Linked DNA regions of Homo sapiens: region 1 is linked to region 2. The links come from fine-mapping of genetic effects on plasma protein levels. Region 2 holds a variant in brackets. A gene starts in the other region. All regions are shown on their forward strands. Region 1 holds the start of SELE (selectin E). Region 2 overlaps SLC39A8 (solute carrier family 39 member 8).

Evidence for each region. A credible set is the group of variants that fine-mapping cannot tell apart. PIP is the posterior inclusion probability: the model's chance that the variant is causal. Protein levels are from antibody-based Olink assays in UK Biobank. Linkage for the fine-mapping came from a reference panel and not from the study's own genotypes, which makes the PIPs less certain.
Region 1: SELE starts here. The variant in region 2 is the best candidate, but not a certain one, in a credible set for the plasma level of the SELE protein (UK Biobank, PIP 0.71).

The regions. Positions count from the first base shown.
Region 1 is chr1:169,733,834-169,738,183 of GRCh38, forward strand. It overlaps SELE (selectin E), which reads right to left and starts at 246. Exons shown (of 14, transcript NM_000450.2): 1 at 138-246.
Region 2 is chr4:102,274,791-102,279,190 of GRCh38, forward strand. All of the region lies in intron 6 of SLC39A8 (solute carrier family 39 member 8), which reads right to left. Among named protein-coding and RNA genes, the nearest start is that of SLC39A8, 68 kb to the right of the region's middle. The variant A/G (reference allele first, on the strand shown) is at 2,135.

The DNA of each region.
Region 1 (4,350 bases), not on the chromosome of region 2:
ATTTAGGTCAAAGAGAAAAGACAGGTTTTAGCTACAATACAATAAGAGCTTGTACAGATGTGGTTTTTATTAGAAGGCCTTTTGCATATCTGTGTTTCATGGCCCGAGGCTGCCCTTATAAAGCGTTCTGCACTTACCGTTTTGGGAAGCAGTTGTTCAAACACAGGATCTCTCAGGTGGGTATCACTGCTGCCTCTGTCTCAGGTCAGTATAGGAGTTTTGATGTGAAGTCAGCCAAGAACAGCTGAACACTACTTCGGCTGAGGCCCTTTTATAGGAGGGATTGCTTCCTGTGAATAATAGGAGGATATTGTCCACATCCAGTAAAGAGGAAATCCCCAATGGCATCCAAAAACTTTCCCGGGAATATCCACGATGCTTAAAATTACAATGATGTCAGAAACTCTGTCTCTTGAAGCTACTTCACCTTTGTCCATGCCTTTATATCGTATATGCAATTTTATTAATATGACAAAAATGCATGATTTTTAATTATAATAACATAAAGTCTATGTCTTTAAAAAGTTGTAAAACTTTGCTTGTTAGTAGTGTCTCTCATGTAGTTGTGGTAGTAATTAGAATTTCAGAAACAGAAGGAAACCAAGAATAGGTTTGTCATCCATAGTCTACTACCTTCAATTTCTCATTCATAGCTGTGGATAACCAATCACTACTCATTTTTTCTTCCTTTTTCACCTGCCAATTCAACATATTTAACATGCACTGTCTCACAGAGGAATGACTCACAAGGTAGATATTAATCTTCAGATTTTGCACGGCAGTTATGCCTAAATTAAAATATTATCTAAAAATAATATCTAACACTCAAATGGTTAAAATAATGCCTTATTTTAAAAAAAGAAAAATGGGAAATAGATATTTACATCTGGGAAAGTTTCATGGTTTGTTCAGTGAAAAAAATAAAAAGGAGGCCAGGCACAGTGGCTCACGCCTGTAATCCCACCACTTTGGGAGGCCGAGGCAGGCGGATCACCTGAGGCCGGGAGTTCAAGACCAGCCTGACCAACATGGAGAAACGCCATCTCTACTAAAAATACAAAATTAGCTGGGCATGGTGGCGCATGCCTGTAATCCCAGCTACTCGGGAGGCTGAGGCAGGAGAATCGCTTGAACCCGGGAAGTGGAGGTTGCAGTGAGCCAAGATCACGCCAGTGCACTCCAGCCTGGGAAACGAGTGAAACTCTGTCTTAAAAAAAAAAAAAAAAAAAGAAAAGAAAAGAAAAAAAATAAAACGGAAAACTATATATATATATTTAATTGGTCAAAATTTTGTTTAAAATTTTTGAAATGTTAATGTGCAAAGAATAAAAATTCTTCCACAATGTTAACAGTGACTAACTCTGGATGGCAGGATTTGGGATAATTTTTATATCCTTCATTATTATTTTCAGGATTTTAAAGTTTTTTTCAATTTCCCTTTTTTTCACCTTTATAGTAACAAGAATACAGTTTAAAGAAACTTGTCTCTAGGCCAGGCATGATGGCTCATGCCTGTAATCCCAGCACTTTGGGAGGCTGAGGTGGGTGGATCACCTGAGGTCAGGAGTTCCAGACCAGCGTGGCCAATATGGTGAAACCCTGTCTCTACTAAAAATACAAAAATTAGCCGGGGTGTAGTGGCGCATGCCTGTAATCCCAGCTACTGGGGAGCCTGATGCAAGAGAATCGCTTGAACCCAGGAGGCAGAGGTTGCAGTGAGCTGAAATCACACCATTGCACTCCAGCCTGGGCGACAGAGCAAGACTCCATCTCAAAAAAAAAGAAAAAAAGAAAAAGAAAAGAAAAGAAATTTGTTTCCAAATGCAACAGAAGGAGATGTATGTGGTATCCTATATTCCTGCTCTTCATTTTGACATTTCTTCTGGGTGATTGTATACATTCCCCATCTCTGCATCTTACCCTATCTAAATGATGGTAACAGTAAATGGGGATCATTTTAATTTCCATATTCTGTAGGTTTTCAGAGCTCAAGTCAAGCTAATATTCTATATCTACAGCCTTTCAAAATAGGAGGTCTATCTAAAAATGTACTGTCAGCAGACCTGAACGAGTAGTGGTAAAAGCCTCGTTTTTCTCTTTACTTGTTAGCACTGGTCTTTCTGTGTTCATAAAGATGTCAAGACCCAAAAAAAAAACAAGAAAAGAGAAGAAAAATTCCAAAAAAGACAACTGATTAGAAAAAAATAACTTAATTAACGAATTTAATTCAACCCCTATCAAAAAGCATAGAATTTATTCCCTCCACCTTACCACTCTCTTACATGATCCAGATACTGACATTATTCCAATTCTTTATCCCACTTTACTTAGCTCAATGTGGTTGTTGCTTCAATAAATTCAGAAGAGTAATCACTCATATAGTGTTTATTTAGATTTTAGGGCAGAATGTCAAGTTGGGTTAATACATTATCTGTATGTATTTTATTTTTAATAAAGTATGAATACATAATCTGCTATTTTTAAAAAGCATGGTCAAATGTATAGAGTAGCCAAATCTTAAAAAACAATTTATCTTCGATATCAATAAAGTACCTAATAATTATATTGCTAATAGAAATTAGTCGTTAACATCCCTAGATAACTAACTTTATTATTGCGAATTTTTCATAACTAAGTTTATAGTTTATCTCTTCCCCTTTTTAAAATTAGTTCAAAGATATCTAAAAATAGCCCCAGTGGTGATGAAGTTTCTATTTTACTTACATATATATGTCCTGGACCCCCAATTATAATCTCTAACATTTATTGAGTGCTTACTATGTGCCAGGCCATATTCTGAGCATTTTGTATGTTCACCTATTGATTATTCAATCCGTACAACAGCCTATGAAATAGGTACTCCTATTATCCCCATTTTACAGATGAGGAAATTGAGAATCTGGGGATTTTATCTCATTCAAAAGCACAGAGCTAAGGGTTGAAACCAGGCAGTTGATATCCAGAGCCCACTCCCTTACCTGCTACTCCAAACCATGATTTCTTTTGTTGTTATGCCCCGAGATTCCTTGTTCTACCCAAGTTTCCTGTACTCTTCTTGCCCTCTTCTTCCTGAGACATCCTTGACCATCACAGCTCTCCACTGAGATAACTGTGTCCTGGGTTCTGAGACATGGGGGCTGGAAGGGACCCCAGGGACAGTGAGCAGTAGGGAGAGGATGCAGTGAGAACAGACCCTGGATCCCCGGTGCATAGGCAGGGAGAAAGTGGACAAAGGAAAAAACAAGCAAGGCAGGTGGAGCCATGCCTAGGTAAAGTTGATCCCTAAGCCACAGTTCCCAGAAGTTCCTGATTCAAAAGCAAATTTTCTCTAAGGTCAAAGGGCAAACTGATTATTCTAAATTCTAAACTGATTATTTCTAAATTGAGAAAGCTTCAGGGAGAGATCCCAATATTCGAAGGATAAGAGAAATGAGGAGTGGAAGAGATAGGTGAGTAACAGTAACTTAAATGTAGACTATATATAATATATAATATATGTAGAGTATATATATATAATTACAATATATTATATATGTGGAATATATATATTATTTATATATATTTATATATTTTATATATATAGATATTTTTATATTTTATATATAAATATAGATATTTTTATATTTTATATATAAATATAGATATTTTTATATATATTATATATAAATATATGTAAAATACTGTGAAAGAAGAATAGAATCTTGAGACCTCAAATTCACTATGCCAAAGGGAAAGTTAAGCTTGGGAAATGAGTCATGCAAAAACTGCCTTCCTTTTGTTCCCAAATACCTGTAATTTCACATGCTTACTTTATCTTATATAAAATGTAGATGTACTGAGCATGAGATCCATGCATAATTTCCCTCTAGTCCCTTCTTTTTACATGTAAAGTGTAGACTCACTGAGTGTTACAGAGCCTTGCCACAATGTAAACACTTGTCTCATTGCCAACCCATCTTTCGTTTATTTTCTTCCCCTCCTGCTTGCTCTTTCCCCTCTAAAGATGGAAGTTCCCAAAACTCTCTTTGGAAAAAGCGCAGGTCACAGATCCTACAGTGATTTGTGTTTCTTTTACCTGGGACAAAATAAACCTCTAATCTGTTGAGATATGCTTCAGTTACTTTTTGGTTTACAATATGTACATGTATGTATATAATTTATATGTATATAATATATGTACTTGTTTTAACCAGAGGTATGTTATTCAAAATCCATTCATCCTTACAATTACCTGCATTCTCCCACAGTATTTTCTGTGTCCCTGCCCCCGAGGTTGTCACTGCAAATCAGGTACATGGATACTGGGAGCTGATGGGCTCCCCTCTGGCTACCTGGGCTGCTGAAGGGGCC
Region 2 (4,400 bases):
CAATATTCAACATTCTTAAATAAAAGAATTTTCAACCCAGAATTTCATATTCAGCCAAACTAAGCTTGATAAATGAAGGAGAAACAAAATCCTTTACAGACAATCAAATGCTGAGGGATTTTGTCACCACCAGGCCTGCCTTACAAGAGCTCTGAAGGAAGCAGTAAATATGGAAAGGAACAACCAGTACCAGCCATGGCAAAAACAAAGCAAAATGTAAAGACCATTGACACTATGAAGAAACTGCATCAACTAATGGGCAAAATAAACAGCTAGCATCATAATGACAGGATCAAATTCACACATAACAATATTAAGCTTATATGTAAATGGGTTAAATGGCCCAATTAAAAGGCACAGACTGGCAAATTGGATAAAGAGTCAAGACCGATCAGTGTGCTGTATTCAGGAGACCCATCTCATGTAAGAAGACACACATAGGCTCAAAATAAAGGGATGGAGGAATATTTACCAAGCAAATGGAAAGCAAAAAAAACAAAAACAAAAACAAAAACAAAACAAAAAAGCAGGGGTTGCAATCCTAGTCTCTGATAAAACAGACTTTAAACCAACAAAGATCAAAAAAGACAAAAAAGGGCATTACATAATGGTAAAGGGATCAATGCAGCAAGAAGAGCTAACTATACTAAATATATATATGCACCCAATACAGGAGCACCCAGATTCATAAAGCAAGTTCTTAGAGACCTATAAAGAGACTTAGACTCCCACACAATAATAGTGGGAGAATTTACCACCCCACTTTCAATATTAGAGAAATCAATGAGACAGAAAATTAACAAGGATATTCAGGACTTGAACTCAGCTCTGGACCAAGCTGACCTAATAGATATCTACAGAACTCTCCACCCCCAAATCAACAGAATATACATTCTTCTCAGCACCACATAGCACTTATTCTAAAAGAGACCACATAATTGGAAGTAAAACACTCCTCAGCAAATGCAGAAGAACGGAAATCATAACAAACAGTCTCTCAGACCATAGTGCAATCAAATTAGAACTCAGGATTAAGAAACTCACTCAAAACCACACAACTACATGGAAACGGAACAAACTGCTCCTGAATGACTACTGGGTAAATAACGAAATTAAGGCAGAAAGAAATAAGTTCTTTGAAACCAATGAGAACAAAGACACAACGTACCAGAATCTCCAGGACACAGCTAAAGCAGTGTTTAGAGGGAAACTTATAGCATTAAATATCCACAGGAGAAAGTGGAAAAGATCTAAAATTGACACCCTAATATCACAATTAAAAGAACTAGAGAAGCAAGAGCAAACAAATTCAAAAGCCAGCTGAAGGCAAGAAATAACTAAGATCAGAGCAGAACTGAAGGAGATTGAGACATGAAAAACCCTTCAAAAAATCAATGAATCCAGGAGCTGGTTTTTTGAAAAGATTAGCAAAATAGGTAGACTGCTAGCCAGACTAATAAAGAAGAAAAGAGAGAAGAATCAAATAGACACAATAAAAAAAATGGTAAAGGGGAGATCACCACTGATCCACAGGAATACAAACTACCATCAGAGAATACTGTAAACACTTCTACGCAAATAAACTAGAAAATCTACAAGAAATGGATAAATTCCTGGACACATACAGCATCCCAAGACTAAACCAGGAAGAAGTCGAAACCCTGAAAAGGCCAATAACAAGTCCTGAAATTGAAGCAGTAATTAATAGTCTTAACAACCAAAAAAAGCCCAGGACTAGAGAGATTCACAGTCGAATTCTACCAGATGTACAAAGAGAAGCTGGTACCATTCCTTCTGAAACTATTCCAAACAATAGAAAAAGAGGGACTCTTCCCTAGCTCATTTTATGAGGCCAGCATCATCCTGATACCAAAACCAGGTAGAGACAAAACAAAAAAAGAAAATTTCAGCCTAATATCCCTGATGAACATCGACGCAAAAATCCTCAATAAAATACTGGTATACCAAATCCAGTAGCACATTAAAAAGCTTATCCAATATGATCAAGTAGGCTTCATCCCTGGGATGCGAGGATGGTTCAACATATGCAAACCAATAAACACAATCCGTCACATAAACAGAACCAATGACAAAAAACACATGATTATCTCGATAGATGCAGAAAAGGCCTTCA[A/G]TAAAATTCAACACCCTTTCAAGCTAAAAACACTCAATAAACTAGGTATTGATGGAACATATCTCACAATAATAAGAACTATTTATGACAAACCCACAGCCCACTTCATAGTCAATGGGCAAAAGCTGGAAGCAGTCCCTTTGAAAACCAGCACAAGACAAGGATGCCCTCTCTCACCACTCCTATTCAACATAGTATTGGAAGTTCTGGCCAGGGCAATCAGGCAAGAGAAAGAAATAAGGGGTATTCAAATAGGAAAAGAGGTAGTCAAATTATCTCTGTTTGCAGATGACATGATTATATATTTAGAAAACCCCATCATCTCAGCCCCAAAACTCCTTAAGCTGCTAAGCAACTTCAGCAAAGTCTCAAGATATAAAATCAATGTGCTAAAATCACAAGCATTCCTATACACCAATAACAGACAAACAGAAAGCCAAATCATGAGCAAACTTTCATTCACAATTGCTACCAAGAGAATAAAATACCTAGGAATACAACTTACAAGGGATGTGAAGGACCTCTTCAAGGAGAACTACAAACCACTGCTCAACAAAATAAGAGAGGACGCAAACAAATGAAAAACATTCCATGCTCATGGATAAAAAGAATCAATATCATGAAAATGGCCATACAGTCCAAATTTATAGATTCAATGCTATTTCCAACAAGCTACCATTGACTTTCTTCAAAGAATTAGAAAAAAACTACTTTAAATTTCTTATAGAACCAAAAAAGAGCCTGTATAGCCAAGACAAGCCTAAGCAAAAAGAACAAAGTTGGAGGCATCACGCTACCTGACTTCAAACTATCCTACAAGGCTACAGTAACCAAGACAGCATAGTACTGGTACCAAAACAGATATATAGACCAATAGAATAGAACAGAGGCCTCAGAAATAACACCACACATCTACAGCCATCTGATCTTCAACAAACCTGACAAAAACAAGCAATGGGGAAAGAATTCCCTATTTAATAAATGGTTTTGGGAAAACTGGCTAGCCATATGCAGAAAACTGAAACTGGACCCCTTCCTTACACTTTATACAAAAATTAACTCAAGATGGATTGAAGATTTAAATGTAAGACCTAAAACCCTAGAAACCCTAGAAGGAAACCTAGGCAATACCATTCAAGACATAGGTATGGGCAAAGACTTCATGACTAAAACACAAAAAGCAATGGCAACAAAAGCCAAAATTGACAAATGGGATCTAATTAAACTAAAGAGCTTCTGCACAGCAAAAGAAACTATCATCAGAGTGAACAGGCAACCTACAGAATGGGAGAAAATTTTTGCAATCTTATCCATCTGACAAAGGGCTAATATCCAGAATCTACAAGGAACTTAAACAAATTTAGAAGAAAAAAACAAACAGCCCCATCAAAAAGTGGGTGAAGAATATGAACAGACACTTTTCAAAAGAAGACATTTATGTGGCCAACAAACATATGAAAAAAGGCTCATCATCCACTGATCATTAGCGAAATGCAAATCAAAACCACAATAAGATACCATCTCATGCCAGTTAGAATGTCGATCACTAAAATGTCAGGAAACAACAGATGCTGGCAAGGCTGTGGAGAAATAGGAACACTTTTACACTGTTGGTGGGAGTATAAATTAGTTCAACCATTGTGGAAGACAGTGTAGCAATTCCTCAAGGATCTAGAACCAGAAATGCCATTTGACCCAGCAATCCTATTACTGGGTATATACCCAAAGGATTATAAATCATTCTACTATAAAGACACATGCACATGTATGTTTACTGCTGCACTATTTACAATAGCAAAGACTTGGAACCAACCCAAATGCCCATCAATGATAGAATGGATAAAGAAAATGTGGCATGTATACACCACGGAATACTATGCAGACATAAAAAAGGATGAGTTCATGTCCTTTGCAGGGACATGGATCAAGCTGGAAACCATCATTCTCATTCTCAGCAAATTAACACAGGAACAGAAAACCAAACACCGCATGTTCTCACTCATAAGTGAGAGTTGAACAATGAGAACTTACGGGCACAGGGAGGGAAACATCACACACTGGGGCCTGTTAGTGGGGTGGGGGGCAAGGGGAGGGATAGCATTAGGAGAAATAACTAATGTAGATGACGGGTTGATGGATGCAGCAAATCACCATGGCACATGTATACCTATATAACAAACCTACACGTTCTGCACATGTATCCCAAAACTTTAAGTATAATAATAAAAAAAAAAAGAATTCTTGCCTCCTGTCCCCGAAACCTTGG